Linked DNA regions of Homo sapiens. Each later gene encodes a partner of the first gene's protein in a complex. Each region holds a gene or a part of one and is shown in the gene's direction. Other genes may lie near its edges.

What was found.
Region 2: the proteins of ITGAV (region 1) and ITGB8 are in contact, whole or in part, in a cryo-EM structure (PDB 8TCF), measured with the Homo sapiens proteins. Residues at the interface, in NP_002201.2 of Homo sapiens: Tyr48, Phe51, Trp123, Leu141, His143, Gln150, Glu151, Arg152, Pro154, Phe184, Gln186, Phe189, Pro204, Trp209, Asp249, Tyr251, Tyr254, Arg275, Arg278, Thr279, Gln301, Met302, Ala303, Tyr305, Phe308, Pro328, Leu329, Met331, Ser335, Asp336; in NP_002205.1 of Homo sapiens: Ser197 (codon at 3,368), Pro198 (codon at 3,371), Ile202 (codon at 3,383), His203 (codon at 3,386), Pro204 (codon at 3,389), Arg206 (codon at 3,395), Ile250 (codon at 4,895), Asp251 (codon at 4,898), Thr252 (codon at 4,901), Pro253 (codon at 4,904), Thr287 (codon at 5,901), Ser288 (codon at 5,904), His289 (codon at 5,907), Leu290 (codon at 5,910), Ala291 (codon at 5,913), Leu292 (codon at 5,916), Asp293 (codon at 5,919), Lys295 (codon at 5,925), Leu296 (codon at 5,928), Gly298 (codon at 5,934), Val300 (codon at 5,940), Pro302 (codon at 5,946), Glu321, Ser324, Leu325, Gly326, Gln327, Glu330, His349, Trp350.

What each region holds. Positions count from the first base shown.
Region 1 is NC_000002.12:186,593,044-186,600,077, forward strand, and holds part of ITGAV (integrin alpha-V isoform 1 preproprotein), read left to right. Parts: intron 1-7,034.
Region 2 is NC_000007.14:20,375,884-20,382,917, forward strand, and holds part of ITGB8 (integrin beta-8 precursor), read left to right. Parts: intron 1-1,447; exon of another isoform or gene 1,448-1,518; intron 1,519-3,167; coding exon 3,168-3,414; intron 3,415-4,782; coding exon 4,783-4,948; intron 4,949-5,843; coding exon 5,844-6,002; intron 6,003-7,034. UniProt on the Homo sapiens protein: Integrin alpha-V:beta-8 (ITGAV:ITGB8) is a receptor for fibronectin. It recognizes the sequence R-G-D in its ligands.

The sequences.
Region 1 (7,034 bases):
TTATTGTTATTTGGTATTACCATAAACTTTTAAAAGAAAAAAAGCCACATAATGAAAAAGTATTTGTCAATTCAAGAGCGCCTTTCTTCTGAGGGGAGAAGGATTTGTGAGGAGCAGTGGTTGTGACGTCCACTCCTGTTGCTTTTTCCAGTTTTGGTGTCCACATACCTTGGGGAAGCTGTAGAATTATTTTATGCCTAATTTTTCTCTTTATAGAAAATTATTATTGAATTATCTGCATAGTTCATAGTTTTGTTGTGAAAATTAATGAATCAATATTTATTAAAGGGAAGGACAAAGTACTAAGCAAAATGTTAAGGCGGCCCCTCAAAAAATCACTCCAGAAATGAGTCAGGTTCGAAGTAAAAATTCACAAATATAGTGATTTTCAAAATTATGAAAAAACATTCGCATTCTGTTTTTTTTTCTATAAGCATTTATTTATGCTATGTTGTAAAACTTACATAAAATTTAAAGATTGTATGCAGGCTAATAATTAGAGTCATACTTTTCTTGTGGAGACTAATTGGAAAAATTAAAAATTACATCCTAGGTTTAATTATAATGATGACATCTTATTTTGGTAAACATATTTTATAATTTGCTAAGCACTTATATCTCATTTCATTCTATAGCCCACACCACCGGGGGGAAGTAAGGGGAAGCAGATATACTCATTCTTACAGATGAGGAGGAAATGGAGGCAGAACCGTTTGCAGTCTAGTTATTTGAGTAGGTTGGTGTGAGTAGAGGGTAAGGAAGGGAAGGATCCGAAGACAGGGTGTAAAATTCAAATCCCACTTTTATTAATTCAAATATTGAATTTTTAAAGAAAATAACTGAACAATTTTAAAATTCATTCTTCAAATATATGTTATACAGTTCTCATTTTATGTATTTCTTTATTTTAAAATAATGCTATAATGAATGACACTGGATTCTTGCCTTTCCCCCCATTAAACGCTAATGGAGCCTTATCTTACAGTTGGCAATGTGTAGATGTGTATGCCTTAGAAGCAGAAGGTCCTTCAATGGTTCTCAGTCCTAACTTCATGTTTGCAATATCTGGAAAGCCTTTTAAATAAAACTCTTGCCCTGGCTGTATCTTAAATCTAAAAGTAGATCTCTGACTTGATATTCCAGTGGCCTGGCCTGTGAATCATTTCTCGTTGACTAGCCTGTCTTAACTCAATTTGACTAAAAAGTCTTCACCAAGAGATGTTAGTTGCACCTCTGTTTCTATTAATGCTGGCATCATTTTCTCTGTCACCTTGGAAATACTTTCATATTCCTCCCTCTCATGTTCTATTTTTCTGTGTTTCTCCTACTTCACCACCTTAATATCAGTCAGTGATTAGTCAACAGGCAGAAGCTCCTAGAAATTCTTCCTTTTTAAGGTTTTCTTGATTCCATCTCTGCTTTCTACTCCTTATTTCAGTGTAGTTATGACAAGCATAGTCAGTGGCACTCAGGTCCTCCCCCATCCCTCTGCCCATCATTTGGCTCTTAAACGTGCAGAACATCTTGTCTGTTTCTATTCATTTTATCTTTCTGTAACATCCTTTTTCATCCTGGTATTCTGTTGCAAAAATTTTCATAATAAAGCTTCCATTGCCAGCAAGAAAGTCCAAACCGCTTAACATGGATTAAGGTCACTTGCAATCTGTCCCAACCTGTGTGTATTTTTAAAACTTCATGTACCATTTCTACTCTTACCATTTTAACCCTTTTCACAACACTTTACAAAATGATGCCAGCTCATTTTTTATAAACTTCAGAGTAGCTCTGATTATATTGGCTGATTTTTCTCATCATAAATAATATACATGTATATTAGGGGACATAAAACTAGGCTATAATTTTGTTATTTAGAAAGCAAATCCTATATTACTTCTGATTAAGGACATATGATGTTTCATAGAGCATTATGAAAGACAAGGGAAAATATGTGGAAATTGTAGTTACTGCTTCTGTTTTACAGTAGTTGTTGACTGGCATTTTTGTTTTTCTTTTGATTCAAAAAAGCATTTTTTAAAAAATGAAAAGTAAATCTGAAACTGGAATTGTAGCTTTGAAATAACATTCAGTACTATTTCATACACATTTATTTCTATATACATGTATGATAGTTTTTCAGAAGTTCCTTTTGGTGAAGGCTCATTGGTCAACTCAGAGTCAGCTAAATATATTAAACATGCTTTATCTTAGAAAGGTCAGTGCTGAAAGCAGACAAACAAGTTAGTTTATTTGGAGGGTTTGAAAAATGGACTTGTCATTGTTTGGCAGGTTGCCCCTCCTTGGTTGTCAAGGTCACATTCCGTGAATCAACTGCCCTTCAAGTACAGTTTGGATAGGGAGTGCATCCAAAGGCCATCCTCCTGATTGGTTCCTCTGAGCCTCTTGTCTGTCTCCCTCTCACTGCCTCCTCTGATACCTCTCCCTCTGTATCGCTCTCTCTTTTTTCTTTTTCTGTCTCTTGTCCTTCCTCTCTTTTTCCTTTCCTCTATCTCTTTTCTTCCTTTCCATCCATCTTTCTGTCCTCTCTCCCAAACTCAATCCTTTATATTTTAGCACTTCTTGGCATGGATGTAAACCTTAATTTTGAAGTCCCAGAGAGTTATTTAATGGCAGTGTTTCCAGTCATTAAAAAAAAAAATGTTGAGGATGGGGATTCTGATGATGTTCTTGGACATACTTTTTGGAGGGAAATGGAGTCTATCAGGAGAGAGTTGCGGGCATAGGAAATTAAGTCACTCAGCTTCAGATTTACACTGCTAATCAGTGAAAACTCTTGTCAACCTTACCTCACCCTGTGTATTCTCCCCACCTCGCCACCATTGATAAGAAATGTTTAAGCTGGCTTTTCTACCCTTCTTTCTCTTTTTCTTCTTCATTTGAGTTAATCACTTGACCATTAATGGCCCTTTGAAAACACTGAGGAAAGAAAAGCCCTTTTAAAGACAGAATTTAAGTTTTACATTTTCTACTCTTCTAGGGAATAACTTATTAATGGCATCAATTGTTTTCAGGACGAAGATGATAATTAAATCCCATCATCTTGTATTTTCGTGGTGTTTCAGATTTTCTAAGTTTGCATTTATTTATTATCACCTTCAGAAAGTTTCTTTTTAAAGTAATTACAGTGGGCATTGTTATTGCCATTCGATAGAAGGGAACAGAGATTCAAAGTTACTGCTTCAATTGATTTGCAGTGTTTGTAAATTTTAATTCCAAACTGTTTCCATTAGATAGTGCTGCTTAGATCACAAACATTTTTTTTCTGGTCTGTCAGTTCTCTTACCCTAATTAAGCTGTTGTACACTTTCATTAGTCATTCTTAGATGAAATTCAAGTAACAATTATTTTTATGGAGTGTTTTATTAACTTTGTTTTTTGTAGTATGTGTTGCTTTTTTTTTTTTTTTGAGATGGAGTCTTGCTCTGTTGCCCAGGCTAGAGTGCAGTGGCACAATCTTGGCTTGCTGCAACCTTCGCCTCCTGGATTCAAGCAATTTCTGGCTAACTTTTGTATTTTTAGTAGAGATGGGGTTTCACCATGTTGGCCAGGCTGGTTTTGAACCCCTGACCTTAAGTGATCCTCCTGCCTTGGCCTCCCAAAGTGCTAGGATTACAGGCATGAGCCACCGTGCCTGGCCTGTGTTGCTTTTTATTCCTTAATTTTTTTATATAGCATCTTTTATCACCTTGTACCCAGTTTTCTATGCAAGTATTTCTTTTTCACTACACAGCTTCCTCGTAAGACTTTAACATATGTCTAAGGTCATTTTACTTTCTCTATCTCTTCATTGTTCTCTTTAAAAAACTTAAATATCTTAATGATAACTTTAATATCGAGATGGCATTTTGGATGAAAAACTTCATCAGCTTTTTTCCCTCACAAATTTAGCATGTAGATATTGACACATTCCTTTTATATTATTCTGCCATTTCTGTAGCATTTCACCAGTATGCAAGTCTGCACATGAAGGTATGCTTAGGAAAACTTAATGAACATCCATTTGTACACCTGATTACCATCATTTCATGCCTATAATGTGCAGATAGCCTGATGAAAAGCAACAGGCTTGTTCCTGGTATTATTCAAGGAACTCATGCTATGTGCTGCCAATAGAGTGGTGTTTTCATTCAGAGAATGCTCCTACTGGGCTCTTTTTCTCTGTCTTTGTTGAAGGCCTTCTCCTAATAACTTCCGAGCTCTCTCTGTCTTATAGTGCCAAGTAAAGAAAGTATCTGAAACCCAAAATTAAGTAGAGATGTTACACAAGGAAATTGTTTTAAGGGTAATTTAAATAATTGGATGTTTAATAGAGGATGCTTTCTGCATTCTTGAGGGGTTCAGACGTAGTGGAAATGACTTATTTATATATGGCTACTTTAAGATTGAGACATAGCTATTGAATTTACTTTGTTACTCCACTGTCCATTTAAACTTTTCTTGAGTTCTTATAATGTGGCAGGTGCAAAAGATGAATTAGAGTACCCTACATTCAAAGAAGCAATTTATCATAAGGTAGGCAGAATAGTTTTGACCAAAAAGTTATAAAATATATTGTAAGACAGGGGTCCCCAACCCTCGGGCCATGGACCAGTACCAGTCCATAGCCTGTTAGGGACCATGCTGCACATCAGGAAGTGAGCAGCAGGAGAGTGAGCATTACCACCTGAGCTCTGCCTCCTGTCAGATCAGTGGTGGCATTAGATTCTCATAGGAGCAAACCCTATTGTGTGAACCCTGCTGTGAAGTGTGCATGCAAGGGATCTAGGTTACATGCTTCTTATGAGAACCTAATACCTGGTGATCCGAGTTGGACAGTTTCATCCCGAAAGCATCCCCCTCTATGTCCAGGGAAGGAAAGGTTGGGGACCACTGCTGTGAGCTACTATTTGAAGACAACCCAGAAGTGATTTTTGCTTGTAGGTTTCCAGGCAAAGCTTGAGAACCAGTTCTCCTATCCTGATGTAGAACCTGGTATGATCTACAACACTAAGAACGTGTACATACCTGTGCTTGTATTACTCTCATTAGGACTACTGTGGCAATGTCCCAAGCAAGCACTATTCAAGATATTGACCCTCAAAAGCAAACTTACCTGAACTGTTCTTTTGTTCTAGTATGCACTCAAAAATCATTTAATTCTGATGAAAAGGGGTAGTTGTGTGATTTTGGGGTCAAATTTTAGACCCGTAGAAAAAAAATTGTATATGTAATAAATTTACATATTATAATTTATACACACACACACACACACACACACACACACACACAGAGTTTCACTGTGTTAACCAACTCTGCTCTAGAAAAAGAACCGATGGGGTTTTGATGACGAGCTGCTCTCTTAGTTATGGGAGGTGGGGACTCTCTTACTCATAGCATTTTTTTTTTTTTTTTTTTGAGACAGAGTTTTCCTCTGTTGCCCAGGCTGGACTGCAGTGGCGCAATCTTGGCTCACTGCAATCTCCACCTCCCAGGTTCAAGTGATTCTCCTGCCTCAGCCTCCCGAGTAGCTGGGATTACAGGCTCATGCCACCACGCCTGGCTAATTTTTATATTTTTAGTAGAGATGGGGTTTTGCCATGTTGGTCTCAAACTCCTGACCTCAAGTGATCTGTCTGCCTCAGCCGCCCAAAGTGTTGGGATTGCAGGCATGAGCCACTGTGCCCAACCTCTTTTTTTCTTATGAAAGACTTTTGCTGAATGAAAACTAAGTTCATTTTCTACCCAGAATCATTTTGCCGTGATGGGAGAGAGCCAACATTGGTGTTTTACTGATGCCAGATATGACTGCATGGAGCTCTATTAAATAGGGCGTGGTTTGGTTGGGAGTTACGTCTTTATTTTGAATTTGTGGATTTTTAAGATAAGTGTCAGAAAGCAGGATTCTTTGTAACCCTGCAATTCGTACAGCCAGCTTTTGTCTACTGTAGATGAGATTTGGCAGCTACTACCCAGAATAAGAAATTGATTTTAAAAGTTCAAGTGAATGCATTCCATATTTAAGATGTACATTCGTTCTAATTTCACAAAAAGGTGAAAAGCAATTGTAAATGTTTCCTTTGCCAGAATAATTTAAGTGACTTAGTATTTAATGAAACAAAATGATTATGGTGATAGCATTTTAGGACTGTTTTTGTCTGCCTGTATCCTGCTTTATTTCCTCCTATATTTCAATCAGTTTCTTGAGATTAAAGACAAAAATCTTTTTTACTTTATCTTCTTTCTCTTCTTGACTCCTAAATGTTGTTGTCCCTGAGAACTCACTCATTGCCCCTCCTCTTTCGACGCTTCCCCTGGCTGAATAACCCCAACTGTGTTCTGATACAGCATACTGTCTCAGGCAGGGCTTCAGACTACAACTGGATGACTCACAGATATCTCAAACAAACATATTAATAATTGAATTCATGGTTTTTCTGTAAATACTAATTTTATTTTATTTCTTGAGACAGGGACTCATTGTTTCACCCAGGCTGTTTGCTTACTTTGTAGCACTTGTAATCACAGCTCACTGCAGCCTCAACCTCCTGGGCTCAAGCCATCCTCCTGTCTCAGGACCCCAGCTCCACCCCCAAAGTTGGGACCACAGGCGCATGCCACCACACCCAGTGAATTGTTTTATTCTTTGTAGAGATGGGGGTCTTACTATGTTGCCTAGGCTAGTCTTGAACTCCTGTAAGTACTTAATCTGCCTTCTGCTTCTCTGCTCTCTAGGCTTTTCTCCCATCAATGCACTCAAGAAGGAAATCTAGGTGGCATTCTTGAATGTCTTTTCTCTCATATTCAGGCCTCCAGCGATTGCTGTTGTACTCCAGATGTTTTTTTCCATCTGTCACCTATCTTTCCACCCACCCTCTTACTGCAGATCACACTCACCTGCTCCCTGAGCTGCGGCCAGTCCTTTGCTTTCCTTGTTCCATTTTTTTCTCCCTCTCCCTTAATGCTTTCCCCATAGGGCATAACATTTAGTTTTCTTTAGTAGATGATTTCATTCTTCTTAAAAAACTCAGTGGCTTCAA
Region 2 (7,034 bases), on another chromosome or scaffold:
ATTAATAGAAATATATTCAACATGGCTTGTGCAAAATTAATAAAATTCTTTAGGTAAAATGGCTTTGAAAATCATATATTATGCTTGAGGAGGAGTGAATGTGGGAGGGGGTTATTGTCATGGGGCTTGTCCTACTTGGGAGGAAGGAGGAAAAGTGAGGAGCAATCATTCCCCTTCCCTTCCTTCCCCTCCCTAACATTTCCAGGCTCTGTTTAAAACCAATGGATATTGCCATTAAGCACGTGATGAAACTGAGGGTGCTGTCCCTGTCAGGGCAGGGATCCATGGTCTATCAGGACATTTCTGCTGTCCTTTTCATGTAGCCACGTCCCCATGCCAACTAGAGTTCCTTTGGTACTAACTCTGAAACCACTGATGGGAAGTGGAGATTTTCCTGGAAACCCTGAAATGGGTCATAGTACTTCATTAATTAAATCATTTCCAGGGTCACTCTAAGCCCATGTTTTGTACCCTATTCCATTTCTCCTCCAAAATTATGCCCAGGCATCTTGTCCAAAATAGTTTATAAGTGGCTCTATGATGAGATCACGTACAAAGGTTAAGTGGGGGTGTTAACTAGGGACACAATATCCACAGTGCTGCAAAAAGGTATTTCTATGTCCTCTTACTGTGGAATACTGATGCCTAGGACACCTGCCCCCAAGAGTCTTCTCCTTTATTTATAATTATATGATCCAAAGCCAACTTGAGAGCATATTATGAGGACTATCTCAAACTAATGGGCATGACATGGTAATCCAAGCTTGACCCCTTTGGTTTCCTCCTTATCAAGCAGAGCACGATTTGGGGTCAGCCTAGCTAGGTCTATTTACCTTGAATTGACTACTTAAAGCTAGACCCTCACAGCAAGCTCAAGGGTCTTGCAGTGTAAAAATATCAATTATTATTCTTGCTAGCGATTACTAAAAGGCCTGTGTATGGAAATACTCTTTTCCTCTTTATTAGAAACTTCTCTACCAAGGCCTCAGCTGACTCCGGTATACGTGCTAAGGCCAGAATTTATAGAATCCAAAATCGAGCCACAGCAGCCCACACTCTCACACCCCAACCATTTGGCAGTGCTTTCTCACAGCCTCTCTTCTTTGCTGAGGCCAGCGAGACCGGAATTTGCTTGCTAGGCTATGAGCAGCTGGTTTCTGCTGAGGGCCCTTGTGTGGCTAGCATTTGGTTGGAGGGCCCTGAATAGCTTACCTCCAAGGACTGGGCTTTTGCTGATGCTGTACAGGCCCTGGTTGTTTGCTGAGGTCACCAACCTATACCTTTGCTGGGTCCCTGGCACAATATGCTGACCATCTATTACATCTAGCAGTACCTCTGAAAACAGCCATTTATCTTTAGACAGAGCCACCATAAACTGCAACGATTCACCAAGATAAAAATACCATGATACCATGTGGCCGGTTTACAAAAACAATCTTTTTTAAATCTACAAAGATAGCAACACTTTTCATCAACAGCAGTTCACCTAGAGAGAGTCGACACTTTTTGTCTGAGTGAAAAACAAAACCAAAAAAACGCTGATCCACACATCAAGGTTCAAGTCCCTGAACATGAACCGCTCTCCCAGTAGTGTTGAATTTCTACTTCTCATCGATCTGGCCCAGTGTACCAGTGTCTAACATTCCCCTGAATTTAATTTCTCCACTCAAATTGCAGAACACTGCCACAGGAACAGTTCTTTCTGTCAACAGAAGCCCAAAAGCAGAGCAGAATATAGGATATGCTCTCAGGAGGCAGCCTAGCTTCTGAAGGCAAGGGATGAGAGAATGGACTGGGCTGGGCCATGTGTGCCCTATTTCTCCTTTCAAATATGGGCCAAAACCTAGGAGCATTACACTAAAGGGGTTGCCTGCACAGAAAAAGCAAATTAGGAATGAGTAGTCCCTTTCTCCATAATTATTATTATATACCAGCAAAACCTTATTATTTTGAATACAGTAGGTAATTTGGCTGAAAAACATCTGATTTGTGAAATAATCGAAAAGAAAATATTGCTATTTTATGCTAACACCAAAAATATAATTTGATAAATTAGAAGGTTCTTTAAATAGGTAAATTATGTATACAAATGAATGTTTATTTTAAAAATGTTTTCCATTCGGAATATTCTTATGGAAAAATAATGACTTACAAAGCATTTACTTAATAGTTTAAAAAAGTAAAATTTACAAATTACAAATTGCTTACATTTAAATAGATGCCTTTTCACCATATACTTGAAATTAAAAGTAGAGGTACCAACTCTATAGAGGGTTAGGGGGGACAACCCAAGTCCTTGTATCAAATAGTAATATGACAGAGAACTAAATAAAATTGTAGTTCCCTGCGGGGACTACCGACATTTGTCCTTGTGGCAGCCCCCTCTCCTCATCCAGTTGTTTTGCCCAAGGTGGGTGCCTCGCTCATGGGCCCCCTCCTCAGCATGTGTTCATTGAACACCTACCGTGTGTTGGACAAATGCTGACCCCTACCTTCCCCAGGTCCTCCATGTGGCACTGCAGGGCACCATTCTTTAGCCCACTGTCTCATTCCTTCACTTGGCTAACTGATGGGAAGAATCTTACCAACTAACTAGTGATGAGGTACTAATTATTTTGAATAGCTTGCTGTACTACACAGTACCAGAGTTTTCTCATCTCCTGTGTAAATACACTTTAACCCAAAGGAATAAATTTATGCCTTTATCCAATAGGAGATCACCTTTTTTTAAAGATACCTTCCCAGTTTTCCTCAAGTCATTCCACACGTACATCCCCCTCACTGTCTTGAGATCGAATGCCGCTTGCTGGTTTGCACTGTGTTTTTCTAGCTACTAAGGCAATGGAGGTTCATATAATGATACAATACCCTGTTACATTTATATGGAGCTGGCCCATTTGTTATTATCCCTATTCAGCCTATAGAATTGTGGGAAATGAACTGTAGGATTTGGAGACCAATAAATTGGTATGGTTTTCAAATTGCCTTATAATTATACTAGAATAATAATTATACTATAATTATTATAATTACACTAGCATATTCCAAATTTTATGTGCAAATTTGTGATGATTGTGCTAGGTGCTAGAATGTGACTAATTTATTAAGAGCTTATCCTGAAAAGTTTAAAATGAAGACTACATGATGTTTTTCTTCTATTGAACTAGGAGCCGAAGCTAATTTTATGCTGAAAGTTCATCCTCTGAAGAAATATCCTGTGGATCTTTATTATCTTGTTGATGTCTCAGCATCAATGCACAATAATATAGAAAAATTAAATTCCGTTGGAAACGATTTATCTAGAAAAATGGCATTTTTCTCCCGTGACTTTCGTCTTGGATTTGGCTCATACGTTGATAAAACAGTTTCACCATACATTAGCATCCACCCCGAAAGGATTCATAATCAATGCAGGTATCTAGGGTTTGATGTGGATATGCTAAATTAATTTTTTGCTTATAAAATCTCACTTTGTTTTTAATGTAAAGAACTTACCAAATTTTATATTTTTATCTTATAAAATAAGAATAAAAATATTTGGTGAGGTGGGGAGGTTTCTTCATATCTGAAAACTTCTGAGATGAACTGTAGATTGGGCTTTTTATTTTATATTTCTTTAAATATTTAGTCAGTTTTTATCACCAAAAAAAACAAAAAAACAAACAAAAAACCCTACCTAATGTTAGTAACTTTGAATGAAGCTTCAATAGTTAGGCTGCCATGTATATAAATACCTCTTTGGAAATTCTGTATTTTTATTTTTTGATTGCTCCAAAATTGCTGAATTATGATTTGACACATTTTAAAGAGTTTGTGCCAACACGTCATCTATCTCTCCATTACTGTACTGTGACTGGGGATAATGATGTTGTCTCCGATGTGACTACAAAGAAATCTCAGTTATCACAAAGAAAGTGGGTCAAAAGATGAGAATTTGATTGCTTAGAAAGAGCCTTTTTTCTTATCATTTTAGATTTCTGATTCTAAATAACATATGTCCCACTATGAAAGAAGAATTAGCCTTAAAAATACAAGTGTCTCACACAATATTGCCATTAGCCTGTGGAATTTTCAGAAAAATAAATCTGTATGGATCTTTTTTCACAAAAGACTTTATCTTTCTTGCTTCTACAAATTGCTTAGATTACTTTACAATACACATTCCAATTTACCGAAACAGCTCTGTCATCTGTTGTACCGGAACAGGATTGATGCATCCATCAATGGAGTTTCATAAGCCTTCTTGAGGTGAATGTACAGGAGGAATCATTCTTACTTTCTGGGTATCATAGATTCTCAAAATAATTTTAATGAATATTGATTGTTCATCAATAATTCCACCAAGCATCACTTTAAAAATTAGTGCAGTATTAAAAAAAACTAATATCATATTTCAACTAAATTCCTCAAAAGCATTTTCCAGAAGTGTTTCTCAGCTGTTCAATGATAAGAAATCACTGCACATTCTTATATTCACCTTAAAAATTCACAGCGCAGATTAAATATTGAAAGCCTTTAACTGTCCTATATTAAAAAACATGTTTAATCATCTTTATTTTTTTGAATACCAAATGCTTATAGTCTTATTTCCTATTTGCAAAGAAATTGTCATCAGCATTGAGCTTATCTCTAATTTTATAAGCATAGATTTTCGTCGTATAAAGTTTCCCTGGCACAAAAGAAGTACTCCCTTTTCACACAACTGTACAATTTTACTGTTAAGTATTCCAGAATGCTTAAGAAGAGCAAAATAAACTTTACACTTCTTCTTTTCCCACACAGTGACTACAATTTAGACTGCATGCCTCCCCATGGATACATCCATGTGCTGTCTTTGACAGAGAACATCACTGAGTTTGAGAAAGCAGTTCATAGACAGAAGATCTCTGGAAACATAGATACACCAGAAGGAGGTTTTGACGCCATGCTTCAGGCAGCTGTCTGTGAAGTAAGACGTTTCACATGATCGAGTGTTTGCTAAGATGCCAAACTTTCAAAGAATTTAGACGTTTTATTTTCTCTTTGATTTGTGGAGTGAAAACGTAGTGTAGAAGAAAACATATCTTACTATCTCTTACTCCTCACCAAGGTGATTCATTTCGGTATGTGTTTGGGACAGAGGGGCTAAATTCAGGGAGGGATTTAAATAGGAAAAGACAAAAGGGAAAGAATAGGTTATGAACGCGAAAATTCTTTCCAAAAGGGCTGCTTTTCTCATGCGCCACACTCCAAGGAGGAACTAGAAGTAGACTGTTGCCCTCCTCACTTCAGCTTGTTCTCCTACTTTTTTTTTTTTTGAGACGGAGTCTCGCTCTGTCGCCCAGGCTGGAGTGCAGTGGCGCCATCTCGGCTCACTGCAAGCTCCGCCTCCCGGGTTCACGCCATTCTCCTGCCTCAGCCTCCCGAGCAGCTGGGACTACAGGCGCCCGCCACCACACCCGGCTAGTTTTTTGTATTTTTAGTAGAGACGGGGTTTCACCGTGTTAGCCAGGATGGTCTCGATTTCCTGACCTCGTGATCCGCCCGCCTCGGCCTCCCAAGGTGCTGGGATTACAGGCATGAGCCACCGTGCCTGGCCTCTCCTACTTTTTAATCTATATTGTTCTTCCTCCAGTGGAACACTAGAAATCTCTAGCCAGGAACTAGTGTGGTCACATGGCTGTGGGAAAATAGAGGATGTACAAATAAAAGTTAAAGCTATTTACGCAGCAGCGTTGTACCCACGCACATCGTTCTAGCCTGACTTACTGTTCGTCAACTCAAACGTAATGTTTACTTGAGGTAAAAACCACAGTACACATCTGTGTTATTGTACAAAGTCTAATTACATGTTTATTTTTAAGAGTCATATCGGATGGCGAAAAGAGGCTAAAAGATTGCTGCTGGTGATGACAGATCAGACGTCTCATCTCGCTCTTGATAGCAAATTGGCAGGCATAGTGGTGCCCAATGACGGAAACTGTCATCTGAAAAACAACGTCTATGTCAAATCGACAACCATGGTAATGCAGCAGTAACCGCTTAGTAGATATGACTCTTTTGGTTAAAGTACAATTTTAAATTGGCAACTCAACTATTTTTGTACCAGGAAATTACCTACAAAAGAAAGATACAGAACAAGGATAAGCCATGAGAGAGAATTTATGGAACAGTGCAATCTATAAATACTGATCAATAAAATATATGAATAAAACAGTTTGACAGTTTCTAGTAGCTGACTCTTTGATGAATGACAAAGCACTGTATAATTTTTGAAAATAAAAATGATACAAGATTTTACTTTTTATGTAATTCTAAGACAGGGGAAAAAAGTATACCTTTGCTTTATACAAATAGACCAGGTCTACGGGGTCGATATCTACAAACATTTTAAGGAGGAAACCTCACAGTACAATAGGTAGAAACTAAATAGAAACCAGGGAAAAAAGACAAGAGAGAAAGAGAGTCAAACAAAGCAGGCTTTCTCTGTTTTGTACTTTACCTCTCTGCATCTTATCTATTTAAGGTCTCTTTTTAAATCAGTGACTATCTGGCTTGCTTCCTGAGGGTTAGTATAAGCTCTGAATCATATATTTAATATAATCACCTAGAACCATATCTTCCCTGGCATTATCTAATTCTAGTTGTGAAGAATCAACAGTCCAAAGCATCATTTACTTCTGATGTTGACACTTATTTATATATTCTTGCATATGTTAAAACAGAACCTCTCCAACTTTCTCAGTTCATGAGACCCTAGTCTCTCAGTGATTTTATTCCATGACACCCGTGGGTCAAAAGAAATACCTAATAGTTCTGTTTTTTTAAGTGGTTAAGTCCAAATAACTCAACTATTTATGTCTTAACAACTTAGTATCTCCTTAAAAATAATACAAATGTATCAAGTGTAGAGATACATGTTTCAGTTTTAGTAAGTAACTTCAGAAATTTTCAAATCCTGAAATCAGATTGGTCATCACTACCCTGATTTCTTCTTCCGTGTTGATTTTCAAGTTGACCAGCTTGGTAAAGATTAATGTCATTTAAAAGAATAG